Homo sapiens: one gene and its partners. The protein of the gene in region 5 interacts with the protein of the main gene of each other region in a pairwise test. Each region holds a gene or a part of one and is shown on either strand. Other genes may lie near its edges. The genes, in order: SKAP2, TRIM5, SH3GLB2, CCDC33 and YES1.

The links.
Region 1: the proteins of YES1 (region 5) and SKAP2 interact in a protein complementation assay, tested with the Homo sapiens proteins (one study listed by BioGRID).
Region 2: the proteins of YES1 (region 5) and TRIM5 interact in binary tests that used the Homo sapiens proteins (3 or more experiments, as listed by UniProt).
Region 3: the proteins of YES1 (region 5) and SH3GLB2 interact in binary tests that used the Homo sapiens proteins (3 or more experiments, as listed by UniProt).
Region 4: the proteins of YES1 (region 5) and CCDC33 interact in a two-hybrid assay, tested with the Homo sapiens proteins (one large-scale study listed by BioGRID).

The regions. Positions count from the first base shown.
Region 1 is NC_000007.14:26,739,082-26,742,600, reverse strand, and holds part of SKAP2 (src kinase-associated phosphoprotein 2), read left to right. Parts: intron 1-229; exon of another isoform or gene 230-259; intron 260-2,636; coding exon 2,637-2,714; intron 2,715-3,519. UniProt on the Homo sapiens protein: May be involved in B-cell and macrophage adhesion processes. In B-cells, may act by coupling the B-cell receptor (BCR) to integrin activation. May play a role in src signaling pathway.
Region 2 is NC_000011.10:5,678,568-5,682,086, reverse strand, and holds part of TRIM5 (tripartite motif-containing protein 5), read left to right. Parts: intron 1-1,848; 5' UTR 1,849-1,909; coding exon 1,910-2,326; intron 2,327-2,917; coding exon 2,918-3,013; intron 3,014-3,519.
Region 3 is NC_000009.12:129,014,832-129,018,350, reverse strand, and holds part of SH3GLB2 (endophilin-B2), read left to right. Parts: intron 1-2,491; exon of another isoform or gene 2,492-2,611; intron 2,612-3,446; coding exon 3,447-3,519.
Region 4 is NC_000015.10:74,274,313-74,277,831, forward strand, and holds part of CCDC33 (coiled-coil domain-containing protein 33), read left to right. Parts: intron 1-3,519.
Region 5 is NC_000018.10:802,237-805,755, forward strand, and holds part of YES1 (tyrosine-protein kinase Yes), read right to left. Parts: intron 1-3,519. UniProt on the Homo sapiens protein: Non-receptor protein tyrosine kinase that is involved in the regulation of cell growth and survival, apoptosis, cell-cell adhesion, cytoskeleton remodeling, and differentiation.

The DNA of each region.
Region 1 (3,519 bases), on a different chromosome or scaffold from region 5:
ATATTAGAAACATGAATTTAGAATTCAGAACAAGTATTGCTTATGACATCAAATTTTATTGTGATGTATCAGGTGGAAATTTAGTCAACACTTTTCTTAAAGCAAAAGACTCAGGCTATGTGTATATTGAACGCTAGTAAATTCTAATTTCCCTTCTCCTTTTCCTTTTCCCCCACTTCCTCTCCCCTCTCCCTTCTTCCCATCTCTCTCTGTCTCCTTTTTGACCAGTAACATTTTAGAGTTGAAAGCTATGCTAAAGGTACCCATTTCTTTTCAGAATAATTTAACTTTTCTTAAGATTTTGTGAGCATCCATTCCTTATGTAAAGAGCATTTATTATGCCCAATGGAAGTGAGAGGGTTGTGGGACTACCCCTTAATGAGACCAGATCATTCCACAATTATCCACTTTAGATTAGTGGTTCACCAGGACTTGTTTACAGAGATAAGATTTCTGTTTGTAATTTTTGTTTTATGTACAAAATCCTATAATAAATAATTTATACCTTTATATGTACCAAGTTTATTTTGAAAAAAACTGGATACATTTATTGAACAGCTATTAAAATATGTACACTGACTTTCCCTAAAATTTCATATACATTTCAAAATCAGGGCTCTATTTTAAATATGTTTTAATGATACTGTGTGGTGTTTACTGGGTGAAGTTGATCCACCAAGGAGCTGAAATTAGTGCTCTAATTTTAAGCTTTATTTCTTAAGAAAAAATATCCATGACTTTATCACTACTGTGATCCCCATGGTATTAAAAAAAAAAACTGGTAAAATTAGGTGATGAGTTTGTAAATAATAAACTTCCTATCAAACCCATTCTTTTTTTTAATTTTTAATTTTTGTGGGTACACAATAGGCAAATTTATGGGCATATTGTATGTTTTGATACAGGCATACAATGCATGATAATCACATCAGGATAAATGAGGTATCCATCACCTCAACCATTTATTCTTTCTCTGTTACAAAGAATCCAATTATATTTGTTTAGTTATTTCATTTTATTAATTTATTTATTTATTTATTTATTTATTTATTTATTTATTTAGAGACAGGGTCTCACTCTATTACCCAGGCTGGAGCGCAGTGGCACAATCATGGCTCACTGCAGCCTTGACCTCTTGGGGGATCCTCCCACCTCAGACCCCCTTCCCCCCACCTCTACCCTCCTCCTCCACTGGCTGGGACTGCAGGCGCGTATACCACTACACCCAGTTATTTTTAAATTTTTCGTAGAGATGGGGGTCTCACTGTGTTACCCAAGCTGGTGTCAAACTCCTGGGCTCAAGCGACCCTCCTTCCTTAGCCTCCCAAAGTGCTGGGATTGTAGGCATGAGCCATTGCACCCGGCCACTTAGTTATTTTTAAATGTACAATAAATTATTGTTGACTATAGTCACTCTGTTGTGCTATCAAATACTAGATCTTATTCATTCTAATTACATGTTTGTACTCAAACACATTTTCTATCCTAAGTTGTACTGAAACTATTTCCACTGGATGTATTCCATACAAACTTTCTTTTGATTGGTTGTTTTCACTTGCTAGAGTTCTAGTAAAATGCTGAGGATAACTATTATATTTCTTTTCTTTTCTGTTTTCGTTTTTTTCTCTTTTTTTTCCCAGGCTGGATTGCAATGGCGTGATCTTGGCTCACTGCAACCTCTGCCTCCTGGGTTCGAGTGATTCTCCTGCGTCAGCTCCCAAGTAGCTGGGATTACAGGCACCCGCCACCATGCCTGGCTAATTTCTTTTGTAGTTTTAGTAGAGACCAGGTTTCACTGTGTTGGCCAGGCTGGTCTCGAACTCCTGTCCTCAAGTGATCCACCCGCCTCGGCCTCCAAAAGTGCTGGGATTACAAGCGTGAGCCACTGCGCCCGGCAGATAACTATTATATTTCTAATGAAGTTTATAAAAATATTGAACACTTGTAAAATTGAGTAACCTATAATCCATGACCGTGAATATACAATTTCTAATCAACTTAACTTTTGCTTGATTTAAAAACTTTTTTTAGGGATCCAGTATTTGTTTATAATAGTTTTATCAGATCTGTCTAGTTTTAGACTCTTAAATGCCCTATAAAAACCTAAAGCATACTCACTCAGTGGAATGTCCATAACATTTCTCTGAATACAAACACAGAGAATATTTGCTGTGGGCTCAGAGAAACAAGTTTCAGCATTTGATTCGGAAAAGCATTTTATGTTTTACTTGGTAGGAATAGGGATTATGCAGGAAAGAGTCAATATGTATTGAAATTTTTAAAGAGTTAATTCAATATAAATATAACGAAGCTATGATTTATTTGAAATTCTTAACCTCTCTTTCAGGGATTTATTGCATTTATTTATAATAGTTTCTCAGTCCTGTATTTTGGGAGGCTATAATAACATATAGGAGTACAGAACTTTTTTTTTTTTTTTTTTTTTTTTACTTTTGAGACTTTTAGGAGGAATAGAGGGGATTAATCTAGGGAATGGATCTGAAACAAAGCTAATAGACTTAGATTTAAACAATTTCAGTAATTAAAAGCACACTGAATCTAATGAGATCTGGCACTTGTTTATTCTGAAATGGATTACCCACTGCTTTTTTTTTTCTCTCCCCAACTTCTCATAGGAGCCCAGTTTCCTCCAATTGCAGCACAAGACCTTCCTTTTGTTCTAAAGGCTGGCTACCTTGAAAAACGCAGAAAAGGTAAACTGAAGGTTCTAATGAAAAATGTAAAAATAATTTCATCCTTAGATAGAACATGTTTGTAGTATACATGTGGAGGCAGTATTCGTTTTAGGTGATTAAAGAGTTTAAAGATTGTAAGAAAATCTGGATGACATTATCCAAACCACAAAATATAGCTCTTAGCTTTAAATAATTTTTAATAAGAAAACATTAGGTTAGGTTTTTAGTTGTCAACCTTGGTTATTTGTAAATGATTCAGGAGCTGTTTCCTGCCTCTCAAAGGAAAGCTGCAGGCCATGACTGTATTCTCAAAGGTGGGATTTCTCACCAGTATCTCAATGGGCTGAGCAGCAGGTTCTCCTATGCCCAAACTGGCATGCACCATGGTTCAGATCAAGCCTGGAGTTTTGTCTGCCATTGTCTATTATTCATTTCAGTGTTCCTCTCCATTGGCTATGATAATTGGGAGTTGACCATATGGTCTCACTCTTTCAACACCAATATTTAATGGAAATGAAATATGGAGGTGGTTTTATAATATGAGAAATGAAAAGCAGACAGTCTTTTCATTACCATTCTGCTTATCTCTCTTGTAGTCCCTTTAGGCCTTTCTATTTATATTTCATTTTGCTTTTCTTAGCTTTCTTAGCTGAATTTTAAAACTGAAAGAGATAACAGAAATAATCTAGGTTAGCTCCTCCCCTTCTTTTTATAACAGATGAGAAAATGAGACCCAGATGGATCAATTATCTCAAGACTGTATAGTCAGATACCTTTTTGACTGTCCCTGTCAGAAAACTTTGTTAGCCATGCTGTTGATCCC
Region 2 (3,519 bases), on a different chromosome or scaffold from region 5:
GGTGGCTCACGCCTGTAATCCCAGCACTTTAGGAGGCCGAGGCAGGTGGATCACAAGGTCAGGAGTTGGAGACCAGACTGGCCAATATGGTGAAACCCCATCTGTACCAAAAATACAAAAATTAGCCGGGTGTGGTGGTGCGTGCCTGTGGTCCCAGCTGCTCGGGAGGCTGGGGCAGAGGAGTCACTGGAACCTGGGAGGCAGAGGTTGTGGTGAGCCGAGATTGTGCCATTGCACTCCAGCCTGGGCGACAGAGCAAGACTCCGTCTCAAAAAAGAAAAAAAAATATTAAAAGCTGATAGAGCCAGTGCCCTTATACAAAGGCTGGAATGTAACAGAAGCCCACTGAGAGTTTTGCCCAGGCCTTTCCTGGGCCTTGAAGCATGACAAGATAACGAAGGAATCGATTAGGACCTGTTTAGGATTAAACAAGTTTTATGGGGGTCTGAAGGAACTCCCAGGCCTCCACAAACAAGTTTATTGAGGGTCTGAAGGAACTCCGCAAACCTTAATGATTTAGCAGGAGAGACAAGATAAGGGTAATCACCCCAGCACCCGGACCCATCTAGATTAGGTAAATTTACTGAGGCACCAGAGGAAGGTCTTAAAACTCAGACCTTAGTTATAGATTTGAAGAAGTTAATCACTTATGTTTTTAGATGAATAATGCACACCTATACGTAGACGTATAGCTTAGAAGGTATATAAGCTCTGGAAAACTTTGTAATTTTGAGTTGGTCTGGAGATATTTTCTAGGCCTTCTCCCTGTACGCAGAAATAAAAATTCGCTTCTTTCCCAGTAAATCTGCATCTCGTTATTGGGCCGCAAGAAGCAGCAGCCGACCCTCCGTTTGTTCCGGGAACAGAATCATCTCATCTAATATTTTGAGACTTCTCTCTCAAGACTGATATCCACTGCCTCTGTGCTTCTAGTTTTCAAGTATCCAACATGTGTGGTCCACTGAGTATTTCTCTATCATCACCCTCTACACCATGTCTACACCTTTAGGCTCCAATAAATGTCCTTGGCAAACTTTCAGGATGAGACTCCTCAGAACCTCCCAGCTGTTGTGGATTCCTCTACTTCCACACCCCAATTGCTCTGGGTATTAATTGGATATATGCTGTTATCTCCATTTGTCATTGATTAACCAAAAGAGTAGCAAAGAGGCCAGTGAAAGAGGACCCTGAATACGAGGTCATCTCAGGTCACCATACTGAAGATAAATAATTTTTGTAAATCACTTATTATGTCTATTTATACATTTGATGAAACAGTCATTCACTCTGCTGATAATAAGAGCAATCATTGCAAACGTACAGTGCATGGTGAGATTTGTTACACTGCACATAAGGTAGTCAGAGCAGGTATTTTTGATAATATAACATGTAAGGAGAGAATTTAATAAAATCGTACTAACATCAGAGAAACATTTCATGCTGAGAGAAGAGCAAATGTGAAAGCCCTGAGGCATAAGCTGTTTGGTGATTTTAATACTGAGGATGTGTTTTGGCGTGGGAAAGAAAAGCCAGGAGAGATGATGGGTCACACAAAGATCTTGGTAGAAAAGACCTCAGTCTGTTTTCTATTCATTGAAAGTAAAGAAAAATGATAACCAATGCACAGATAAGAACAGAATTTGTCATATGACATGAACTGGCAGTAAAGTATTTAAGGTGATTATGAAAAGCCCTTATTACCAGGTAACCAAACACCTTTTCTTATTTCTCCCCTTTTTTTGTCCTTAATTATTTTCATCTTGCCCATTTTCTAATTGTGCACAATCAATATCCTTTCTATTTCTACCTTTCTTACTTGGTCCCATTTTAACCTTCCCAATCATGCAGGGATCTGTGAACAAGAGGAACCTCAGCAGCCAGGACAGGCAGGAGCAGTGGAATAGCTACTATGGCTTCTGGAATCCTGGTTAATGTAAAGGAGGAGGTGACCTGCCCCATCTGCCTGGAACTCCTGACACAACCCCTGAGCCTGGACTGCGGCCACAGCTTCTGCCAAGCATGCCTCACTGCAAACCACAAGAAGTCCATGCTAGACAAAGGAGAGAGTAGCTGCCCTGTGTGCCGGATCAGTTACCAGCCTGAGAACATACGGCCTAATCGGCATGTAGCCAACATAGTGGAGAAGCTCAGGGAGGTCAAGTTGAGCCCAGAGGGGCAGAAAGTTGATCATTGTGCACGCCATGGAGAGAAACTTCTACTCTTCTGTCAGGAGGACGGGAAGGTCATTTGCTGGCTTTGTGAGCGGTCTCAGGAGCACCGTGGTCACCACACGTTCCTCACAGAGGAGGTTGCCCGGGAGTACCAAGTAAGAGACTGGGATGGAAGGAAGAGAGGGCAGAAAATGGGACCAGATGGAAAATTTTCACTTTGCCTTTGACATTAACTGCCTTGTCATGATAGACCTGAGACCCGGGATTATTTTTTTCATGCTATGCTTAACTTCTGAGGCTTTAAGGATGGTTTTTTGCATTTCACCCAATTACAGGAGAATAATCCTAGAGTATATATTCCTGGCCGGGAGTAAATATTTTGTACCTTGGGTTAGATGGGTAGAGATTTGGTGTCCAAGAAAAGCTCTGATTACCCCTTTCAGCAGGAGAGTAACAGGAGTGGGTTGAGATGTAAGTTTTTTCCTTGCTGCAGGATTAGTTTTTTCTTCTAGGACAAAAAGAATCAGTCTACTCATGGTGAGGAGATGGGGAGGTCTATTACCTGAGATGTAGGGAGCACATTCACCAATGTAAGTTTTCTTCCAAGTCATGGATTCTCATTGCCATTCTCACAGTTTCTGCAAATTTGTTTCTTCTGAGATCAACCTGATTTATTTCATGTTTATACTCTATCTAGGTGCTGGAAAACCTCATAGCTTGACTATGGTGTGATTCCTTTCTCACAGGTGAAGCTCCAGGCAGCTCTGGAGATGCTGAGGCAGAAGCAGCAGGAAGCTGAAGAGTTAGAAGCTGACATCAGAGAAGAGAAAGCTTCCTGGAAGGCAAGAGGATGTGGTTCCCGAAGGAGTTAGCTAGAAATCTGGGCAGGACCAGGGGAAGGAGCTTTCTTCCTCTTTATTCCCTGACATTTGATAAGTCCAGAAGTCATTTGATTAGTCCTCTTCATCCTTTCCCTGATGGGGTGTGGTGGCTGAGGAGTGAATATGTCACAGTGAACACAGTAGGGAGCTCTTTACATGAAGGATCTCTCTGGTGAGGATGGCTAGTGAATCCTGCATTCTATTTTTGTGCTACTTTTTGAGTCCGTGACTCTACTTGGGGAAGACATTTGGCAATGGCTCATGATTCTGTCCTCAGTGTTCAACTTTTGGCAGGGAGTTTGAGCTTGGGCTGAGAAGTAATACAGGCAGGCATGAGTGTCCTGCATAGCTGTGTGAAAGGTAAGCTACATCCAGGTAACCCATTTTGATGCAGGATGAACCTCAATATACCCATTCAAGGTCATTGTTTTAAAATGTCATGAAGGAAAAGAAATAGGAAAAGGCAG
Region 3 (3,519 bases), on a different chromosome or scaffold from region 5:
CCGCCTTGGCCTCCCAAAGTGCTGGGATTACAGGCGTGAGCCACTGCGCCCAGCCAATTTAATTTAACTTTTTAAGAAGTTGCCAAACTGTTTTCCAAAGTAGCTGTATGATTTTTTTATTCCTGTCAGTAGTGTGTTGTTTCATTTTCAGATATTTGTGGATTTTCTGGGTTTTCTTCTATTGTTGCTTTTAACTTAATTCCACTGCGATCAGAGAATGTATGAACATGTCGTGCTATGTTAGTATTATTATTATTTTGAGATGGAGTCTCGCTCTGTCGCCCAGGCTGGAGTGCAATGGTGCCATCTGGGCTCACTGCAAGCTCCACTTCCCAGGTTCAAGGGATCCTCCACCTCAGCCTCTCAGCCTTCTGAGTAGCTGAGATTACAGGCACGCACCATCACGCACCTATAATCACACCCAGCTAATTTTTTTTTTTTTTTTTTTTGTTTGAGACGGAATCTCGCTCTGTCGCCCAGGCTGGAGTGCAGTGGCACGATCTCGGCTCACTGCAACCTCCGCCTCTCGTGTTCATGCCATTCTCCTGCCTCAGCCTCCCAAGTAGCTGGGACTACAGGCACCTGCCACCATGCCAGGCTAATTTTTTTTTTTTTCAGTGGAGACGGGATTTCACCGTGTTAGCCAGGATAGTCGATCTCCTGACCTCGTGATCCACCCACCTTGGCCTCCCAGAGTGCTGGGATTACAGGTGTGAGCCATCACACCCGGCGTATTTTTTGTATTTTTAATAGAGATGGGGGTCTCACCATGTTGGCCAGGCTGGTCTCAAACTCCTGATCTCAAGTGATCCGCCTGCCTTAGCCTCCCAAAGTGCTGGGATTACAGGCATGAGCCAGCACACCCAGCCTCATATTTTTATTGTTTTAATCCTTTTAAATTTATTGAGACTTGTTTCATGACCTAGTATATGGTCTATCTGGGGAATGTCCTAGGTTCACTTGAGAAGATGTGATATTATGCTGTTGAGGGTGCAGTGCTGTATAGGTGTCAGCGAGGCCACATCGGTTAATAGTGTTCAAGGCTTGTATGTCCTTGCTGATTTTGTCTTGTCCTATTCATTATCAAGAGTAGACTATTGAGGCTGGGCATGGTGGCTCACACCTGTAATCCCGCCACTTTGGGAGGTCAAAGTGGTTGGATCACCTGAGGTCAGGAGTTCAAGACCAGCCTGGCCAACATGGTGAAATCCTGTCTCTACTAAAAATACAAAAAAATTAGCTGGGCATGCTGGTGCGCGCCTATAGTCCCAGCTACTTGGGAGGCTGAGGCAGGAGAATTGCTGGAACCCGGGAGGCGTAGGTTGCAGCGAGCCAAGAGCGCGCCACTGCACTCCAGCCTGGGAGACAGAGTGAGACCAAAAAAAAAAAAAAAAAAAAAGAGCAGAGTATTCAAGTTTCCAACTATTACTGTTGAATTATCTTATTTCTCTCTTTGTCAGTGTTTGCCTTATGTATTTTGGAACTGTCTTAGGTCTGTATGTTTATATTTGTGCATCTTCCTGATGAATTGACTCTTTCATTATAAAATACTATTCTTTGTCTCTAGTACTATTTTGTGTTAAAGTCTATTTTGTCTGGTAGTAGTATAGCCACGTTAACTCTCTCGTGGTTACTGCATACATGGTGTACTTTTTTCAGCCCATTCATGTCTTTAAATTTAAAGTGTATCTTTGGATTTTTTTTTTTTTCTGTCACCCAGGCGGGAGTGCAGTGGTGCGATCTTGGTTCACTGCGACCTCCACCTCCCGGTTTCAAGCGATTATCCTACCTCAGCCTCCTGAGTAGCTGGGATTACAGGTGCTTGCCACCACGCCTGGCTAATTTTTGTATTTTTAGTAGAGACAGGTTTCACCAAGTTGGTTAGGCTGGTCTTGAACTCCTGACCTCATGATCCGCCTGCCTCAGCCTTCCAAAGTGCTGGGATTACAGGTGTGAGCCACCGCACCCGGCCGTATCTTTTTTTTTTTTTTTTTTTTTTTTTTTTTTTAAAGACAGTCTTGCTCTTGTTGCCCAGGCTGGAGTACAGTGGTGTGACGTTGGCTCACTGCAACCTCTGCCTCCTGGGTTCAAGCAATTCTCCTGCCTCAGTCTCCCAAGTAGCTGGAATTACAGATGCACACCACCACACCCAGCTAATTTTTGTATTTTTAGTAGAGACGAGGTTTTGCCATGTTGTCCAGGTTGGTCTCGAACTCCTGACCTCAAGTGACCCACCCACTTTAGCCTCCCAAAGTGCTAGAATTACAGGCGTGAGCCACTGCGCCCGGCCTTGCCTTCACTTTTGAAGGATTGTTTTGCTATATATAGAATTCCTGGATGAACAATTTTTTCTTTACTTTGAATATATTATCTTACTGCTGTCTGGCTTCTATTGTTTCTAATGAGAAGACAATTCATCTTATTTTAGCTCTCTTGTATGTGATGAATCAAACCATGTTTTTTCTTTTCTTTTCTTTTTTTTAAAGACAGGATCTTGCTGTGTCACCCAGACTGGAGTGCAGTGGTGCAATCATAGCTTACTACTATAGCCTCAAACTCCTGGGTTCAAATGATCCTTCCGCCTGGGCCTCCCAGAGTATTGGGATTACAGGTGTGAGCCAGCGCGCCCAGCCTCTTATTGTTTCTTCACATATTTTTTCTGCCTTATTTTCTCCTCCTCTTCTGGGACTCTTGTTAGTCATATGTTGGTTCACTTGACAGTGCCCCGTAGGTGCTGAGGCGCTGCTCATTTTTCTTATGATTTTCTATTTATTTTTTATAAAGACAAGGTTTTGCCATGTTGCCCGGGCTGGTCTTGAACAGCTGGGTTCAAGCAGTCTGCCCACCTTGGTTTTCCAAAGTGCTGAGATTACAGGTGTGAGCCACAGCATCCAGCCCAGTAGTTTTTCTTGATTAAATGCTTTTCAATTTGTTTTTTGCCTTGGTCAATTTGCAGAGTCCAGAAATGGATGTTTTTGACAATTGTGTCCAGTTTTCTTTCAATTTGTTTTATTTTCAAAGAGATAAGGTCTCCCTATGTTGCCCAGGGTGGTCTGGAACTGCCGAGCTCAAGTGATCCTCCCGTCTCGGCCTCCCAGAGTGCTAGGATTATAGGTGTGAGCCACCGCACCTGGCGTGGTGTCCAGTTTTATTGTTACTTTTTTTGGGAGGGGATTTGTTGAGCTCCTTTCTCTGACATTCTGGAAGTCTAACCCCGATCTTTATAATGGCTGCATTGTGTTCCATATTTTGGCTGTCCCATTGTTTATTTGTTAGTTCCCAGTTGATGGTGTAGTGTAGGTTGCTTCTGCTTTTTCCCAGGCAAAGCATTCTGCACTGAGCACCCCGGCCCTTGCTCTTCAGCAAGCTCTTCCTGAGCCCTCTCCTGTAGATCAGAGTAGCCTGAGCCTGACCTTCTTCCTCACGCTTCAACTCTGTTTTCTCAGGGAAGACACTGATCAAGGTGGCAGAAGCTGAAAAGCAACTGGGAGCCGCGGAGAGGGATTTTATCCACACGGC
Region 4 (3,519 bases), on a different chromosome or scaffold from region 5:
GATTGGTCTCTTCTCATGATCTGCGCTTCACTGCCAGCTTGCCCTACACGATGGTCCCAACATTCCTAGGGGCCTTGGGGGACAGAGGGATTTTTGGAGGTCCCTCCTATTGTCTGCCCACCAGTGCTTATGTCTGGCATAGCAAAAATAGAACAAGACACCCCTTTGGAGCCCAGGCTTCATTTAAAGGCAAAGACATTTGAAGAAGGCTCAGACATGGGGTAGAGTGATGGTGGTGGGGAGGAGTGGGACAAAGGGGGACCCTGGGGACAGAGGCTTCAAACCCAAACCAATCCTTTGCCTGATTTCCCTAGAGTTACCTCACACATGGCCCTGCATTTGCCCAGAAAATTAAGAACCAATCAGCAGGCTGTCCCAAGGGGCAAGAGGCACTGCCTGCTTTAATGAGTGTGCCCCCTCCCACCCCCAGGCTTTCTCTGGCTGCCTTTGCTGCCTAACTAGTCTGGGTAGGAGAGGTGCCACTCACTACAGAGACTTGTTCCCAGTGCCTTTTGCATGTGTGGGACCCGGTCCAGCAATGGCAGGACACCTGTTGAACATCACCCAACCCCATGGCAGCTGGGCCAGGTTGGGAATTTGCTGGCAGCTGGCACAGAGGTGCCCAGGTGCAGCAGTGAGAGAACAGGAGCAGGCTGCTGTGGTAAGGAGGGGTGGGGATTGCCCGGGCAGAGCCATACCTGGAGGGGCACCAGTCAGCAGCGTGAGCTCAGTCTTCACACAGACCCCTGCCCTGTTCCCTTTGAGCGTCAGTCCCCTCATCTCTACACTTGAGGGGGTGGGATTGGACTTGGTAATTTTAGGGCCTGCCCTCTCTGACATCTTGGGGGGCTGTGATTTCTCACCAACTGTCACTGTGCAAAAGCACTGTTTGACCTGGGTTTGACCCCAGCTCTGTAACTTACTGGCTGCATGACCTTTGGTAAGCTGCTCCTTTCTCCAGACTCATTGATTCCAATCTGTTAGGAGAACTCAAAGGATAATCTTTGCAAAGTGTCCAGGCCCAGGGTCCAAGGTAAATGGGTTCCACTCTTAACAGAGCTGTACCTCCCCTAGTGCCAGTGTCCCCTCTGAGGCCAGCCTCACCACTGCCCTTTTCACATCTGGCTCCAAGTAACAGAAACCCCAACTTGGATCGGCTTAAATACTAAGGATATTTATTGTCACACACCACATCAACTCACGACATAGAATGCTGCCAGAATTGGTGGATGCTCAGGCTCAGAAGCATCCTCGAGGTCTCAGGATCTTTCCAACACCCCGAATTACCATCTTCAGCTGGCTAACGGCTCATGGGGGCACTTCATCCAAATAGAATGAAAGACCAGCAGATAAGAGGCAGCCTCTCTTTTTTTTTTTGCGACCAAGTCTCTGTCCCCCAGGCTGGAGTGCAGTGGCGCAATCCTGGCTCACACTGCAACCTCTGCCTCCTGGGTTCAAGCAATTCTCCTGCCTCAGCCTCCCGAGTATCTGGGATTACAGGCGAGCGCCACCATGCCCAGCTAATTTTGTATATTTAGTAGAGATAGGGTTCAACCATGTTAACCAGGCTGATCTTGAACTCCCGACCTCTGGCGATACGCCCACCTTGGCCTCCCAAAGTGCTGGAATTACAGGCCTGAGGCACCGCACCCAGCAGCACCCTCTCTTCTTGTAGGTGGTTTTAAAGAGCAACTGGAAACCAACCTTACCCAGCCATCCCTCAGCAGACCTCCTTCCTGTCTGATTAGCCAGGATTGGGTTACATGCACTTCCCTGAGCCAATCACTAAGGAGGGGTGTGGCTCTGCCTTGCTGGTATAAATGTGGAAGGTTATGGAGGCGGAGCCACCCGAACCCAAGGGCCATCTGCTGGTGATGAGGCAAGGAGGGGCATGGTGGTGGGCTAGGTGGCCCTCAGTGGAGCCTGGTGATGATGGCAAAGGCTGAACTGGTGAGTTAAGGGGTAGATGGCCTGTCGGACTTCACCTGGTCCAGCCTGCTGGAACCAACATAGGGTGGGCCGTGTAAGTTACTCCTACCCCGGCACCTTGGAAGGGGCCCATTGCCCAACAGGCTGCTCCTGTTGTTCTGGTCTCCTACAGAGCTGGAGTGGAGCTCCGGGAAGCCATGTGTGCCCACCACCATCCCCTCCTCTCTCAGCCCCACAGCTGGCCTGTCCCCAAGCTCTCCTGGGGCCCCTTCCATCCCCACAGACCCTGCCCTAGTGCTAGCCTCCCCTCAGGCCCCTGCCATCCATTCTCTGAGGAGCAGCCAGGGCATCCCCTGCCTAGCCCTTCCCCTGGGCCCCCTGTTACTATCACGACAAGGCAAATCCCACTCTCAGCCAGGTCCACAGGCCCTGTGCCCTCCAGCCTCCTGGCTTATGGCTCCAGCTCATACAGGCATTCTGCAGCCCCACTGGACAGCTTGCTGTTCTCCACACCCACACTGCCCCTTCCCACCTCCAGCCTCCACCTCTGCTGCACTCGCAGTCTGGAATGGCCTTCCTCTTCCTTACCTACTGCCCTTGTCCTTCAGGTCCTCCCTGAGGAATGGGGTCAGAAGTCATGGCTTTCTCCTCGCACACCCCAGCTCCCACAACCACAGCTTGCTTAGGACTCTACATGTTTGTGTGTGTGTGTCTGTCTGTCTGTCTGTCTGTCTGTCCCCTATCCTCCTGGATGATGGTGGGCTACAGGGTCGGGGGCAGAGTCTGGCTCTACAGCACCCCACAGGCATCTGGAATGGAGAAGCCCCCCAGAGTCAACATTTGCTGAGTTCAGTGAAGTTGAACTTACATCTTAATAGCAAAACATCCATTGTCTCCTTTAACCTTACAACAGGCTTTCAAAGTGAGGAGTTTGAGGCATATCCCCATGGGATGATGGGAAAAGTAGGTCCCAAAGAGGAGAAGGGACTTGAAGGCCACACAGCAAGGTTGAGGCAGACCCAGACCCAGAGCCAAGGGGTCCTAGATCCCTAGAGACCCCAGCCCAGCATCTGCTCCCAGCAGCTACTCCTCCAGATGGCGGCCACTATGCCTGGGCAGAGCAGGCAGAGGTGGATGTGGGTGGGCCCAGGGGAAATAAGGCGGTGGGCGTGGAGGGGCCATGGAATGAAGGCTCTGTCCCCAGGGGAAGCAGGTCTGCCTCCATGGCTGGGGGTTAATGGCTTTTCTGAAGATCACAGCTGAGGGTTAATGACATTCCATAATTCCACTACCGCTGTGGCCCTTCCATTAGCATCTGCAGGCGATGCCTGCCTCTCCCCGCCCCCATCCTGCACACACATCAGCCACAGTACCCTCACCAGGGCTCTGGCGTCAGACTGCAGGTCTTCTAACTTTGAGTTCCCACCACTCCTGCCTGCACATGCACAAGACAGGCTGACCCTCCCTCCCCAGTCCTAGGTCTGAAGTGATCTTTCCTAAGTGACTTGCCCTGGGAAACTACTCAGGGAAAGGGCTGTTCCTTATTGGGCCGGCAGCCACTCACCACCTCTGGCTTCATAGGCTCCATTT
Region 5 (3,519 bases):
AAGACCATCTCTCTTAAAAAAGAAAGAAAATAAAATAATTAGAAAGTATTGCCAGGCGTGGTGGCTCATGCCTGTAATCCCAGCACTCTGGGAGGCCAAGGCAGGTGGATCACCTGAGGTCGGGAGTTCCAGACCAGCCTGACTAAAAATACAAAAAATTAGCCAGGCAAGGTGGTGCACGCTTGTAATCCCAGCTACTCAGGAGGCTGAGGCAGAAGAATCGCTTGAACCTGGGAGGCAGAGGTTGCAGTGAGCGGAGACCACACTATTGCACCCCAGCCTGGGCAACAAGAGTGAAACTCCATCTCAAAAAAAAAAAAAAAAAGTATTAATTGAACATTCTCTGCCAGCAATTCAAATGTACTATTTAATGAAGAAGAAAAAAGACAAGAAATCTCCCTTTCCATCATTGCTCCTCATTCCTAAGAAAGTTATGGCATATGGAACAGGCTTGTAGTCAGCCCTAGGTTTAAATCCCAGTTCTGCCGGTTGTGTGACCTTAGCAAATTATATATACTTTCTGATTCTCAGTTTCTTTATCTGTAATAAATACCTACCTCAAGGGGCCCAGCACAGTGGCTCACACCTATAATCCTAGCACTTCGGGAGGTTGAGGCAAGTGGATCGCTTGAGCCCAGGAGTTCGAGACAGCCTGGGCAACAAGGTGAAACCCTGTCTCTATTCTAAAAAAAAATAAAAATAAAAAACAGGCTGGGCATGGTGGCTCACACCTGTTTTCCCAGCACTTTGGGAGGCCGAGGCGGGAGGATCCCTTGAGCCTAGGGGGTTTAAGATCAGTCTGAGCAACATGGTGAGAAATTTTGAATTTTAAAAATTAAAAAAAAAATTAGCTGGGCATGGTGGCTCACAACTGTGGTCCCAGCAGCTACTCAGAGACCAAGGTGGGAGGATCACTTGAACCTGGGAGGCAGAAGTTGCAGTGAGCCAAGGTTTTGCCACTTCATTCCAGCCTGGGTGTCAGAGTGAGACTCCGTCTCAAAAACAAAAAATAAATACCCATCTCATTCCTAATTTTTCTGTGTATTTTGGAAACACATTTCAAAGATTCAAGTCAAATGTGATAATGCATATAAAAGTATGGCATAGCACCTATCATAGGACAGGCTTTCTTCTTTCCCTACCCAATGCCAAAGTGAGGTGAATGGGTGGGAAATAAAAAAAGCACAGAGAAGGTAAAGAAGTTACAAACTCCATATTGTAACACTCCTCATTTTCCCAAACCCTTTTCTACTATTTTTGTTTATTACCCCCAATCTTTTGAAGCTTTTCTATACCTCATACTGTCCTATAGGGTTAGAGTATGAGGCAGGTTTCACTGCCACTAGCAAGCAGGTGGGGAAACCTAGGGAAGTTTCTGTACTTAAATTAAGCTTAATAGCAATGCCTTATTGGGAGAATCTGAGTCTCCTAACAGGGAACTCAAAACAGTGATTTTTAAATAGTGAGGAGCTGGTAAGGTGGGAAAGGAGGGTGACTGGCAAGGCTACAGGTTCACCCACCTCATAATCAGAGCACTTGTAGGCCAAATATTTTATTTGTTCAAAGAGCTCAGCAGTTAACAAAAACCAGGCAAAAACTGATAATCAGTCAGAAAATATTTTACCACCAAAGTATTATTTTACCTATTTGTGAGGCTTTTATAAGACTCCAACGGGCTGCCTAGAAATCAGGCCAAAAGGCTTATGTTACAGAAAAGACTTCCTGGAAAAACAGATTCTAATTTTCAAAACATCAACTTACAAACTTTCAGAACACTGTAATTTTAGTTTCTTTGTTTTAGAAAATCTATTTTACAAACCTTAAAAGGCTAACCATTTTCCAATGCCATGCTTGTCTTGTTCTAAATATTAACTGTATGTGTATAAAGACAAATATCCAGAACAAGTTGTCCATACCTTTGTCAATTAAAAAAATTAAATGTAAATTTTGATGATAGTGGCTATTTTTCTCATATAATGTTGCAAAGTTTTTATTCAAATAGCCACGATTACTTGTTAACTGACATCATAACTATCCACTTCAACAGAATAATTAAGTCATTTTTCTAATTTTATTACGAAAAAATCTGGGCTAGGCACAGTGGCTCACGCCTGTAATCCCAATACTTTGGGAGGCCAAGGCAGGCAGATCACCTGAGGTCAGGAGTTCGAGACCAGCCTGGCCAACATGGTGAAACCCCCATCTCTACTAAAAATAAGAAAATTAGCTGGGTGTGGTGGCACACACCTGTAATCCCAGCTACTGAGGAGGCTGAGGCAGGGAGAATTGCTTGAACCCGGGAGGCAGAGGTTGCAGTGAGCCGAGATTGCACCACTGCACTCCAGCCTGGGCAATAGAGTGAGACTGAGTCTCAAAAAAAAAAAAAAAAAAAAAGGCCAGCTGAGGTGGCTCACACCTGTAAGCCTGGCACTTTGGGAGGCCAAGGCGGGCGGATCACCTGAGATAGGGAGTTGGAGACCAGCCTGACCAACATGGAGAAATCCCATTCTCTACTAAAAACACAAAAATTAGCCGGGTGTGGTGGCACACGCCTGTAATCCCAGCTACTTGGGAGGCTGAGGCAGGAGAATCACTTGAACCCAGGAGGCTGAGGTTGTAGTGAGCTGAGATCAAGCCACTGCACTCCAGCCTGGGCGACAGAGTGAGACTCTGACTCAAAAAAAAAAAACACAAACCAAAAACCTAGCATAGTAGTATAAATGTTTGCTTAATTAGTAGAACTGCAATTTGCTTGAGAAAGTTCCGTGTCAAGTCCATGGGTCAGTTTTTTATAATCTTTACTTATATCTAATGTGATTCCAAATTTTAGACTCAAACATTTCCTTAAAATTTTATCAATACGGTCATGCATCACTTAACATATATTCTGAGAAATGCCTCATTAGGCAATTCTGACATTATGTGAACACTCTAGAGTGTACTTACACAAACCTACGTGGTATAGCTGACTACAACCTTGGGCCATATAGTATGGCCTATTTCTCTCAGGCTACAAACCTGTACAGCACACAACTGTACAGAATACTGCAGGCAACTGTAACAGTATTTGTGTATTTAAACATAACTAAATGTAGAAGAGATACAGTAATTACACAGTATAAAAAAATAAAAAATGGTACACCTATATAGGGCAGCTCTACTATAATCTTACAGGATCACCATCATTGAAACTTCCTTAGGCAGAGCATGACTATATTGTAACAACTTCAACTGCGGCAGAGCACACATTTATATATAAAGCTGAGAAACTATTAGAAACCATGAGGCCCAACTACCTTTTGTTTCAAATTGCAAAACTAACGCCTAGGGAGTTTACTGAATCGACCAAGGCTAAACAGCTCTTCACTGTCAGAAATGAAACTAAAATCTAGATAGTGTTAGTGCTCTACCTTCCAGTCCTTTCCTTATAACACCATATTGCCTTCTCTGCTCCTTCCAAATGTCTGGCTGCTATTATTTTTAAAGTATCCTTATCTGTAAAATATTAATCACATCAGA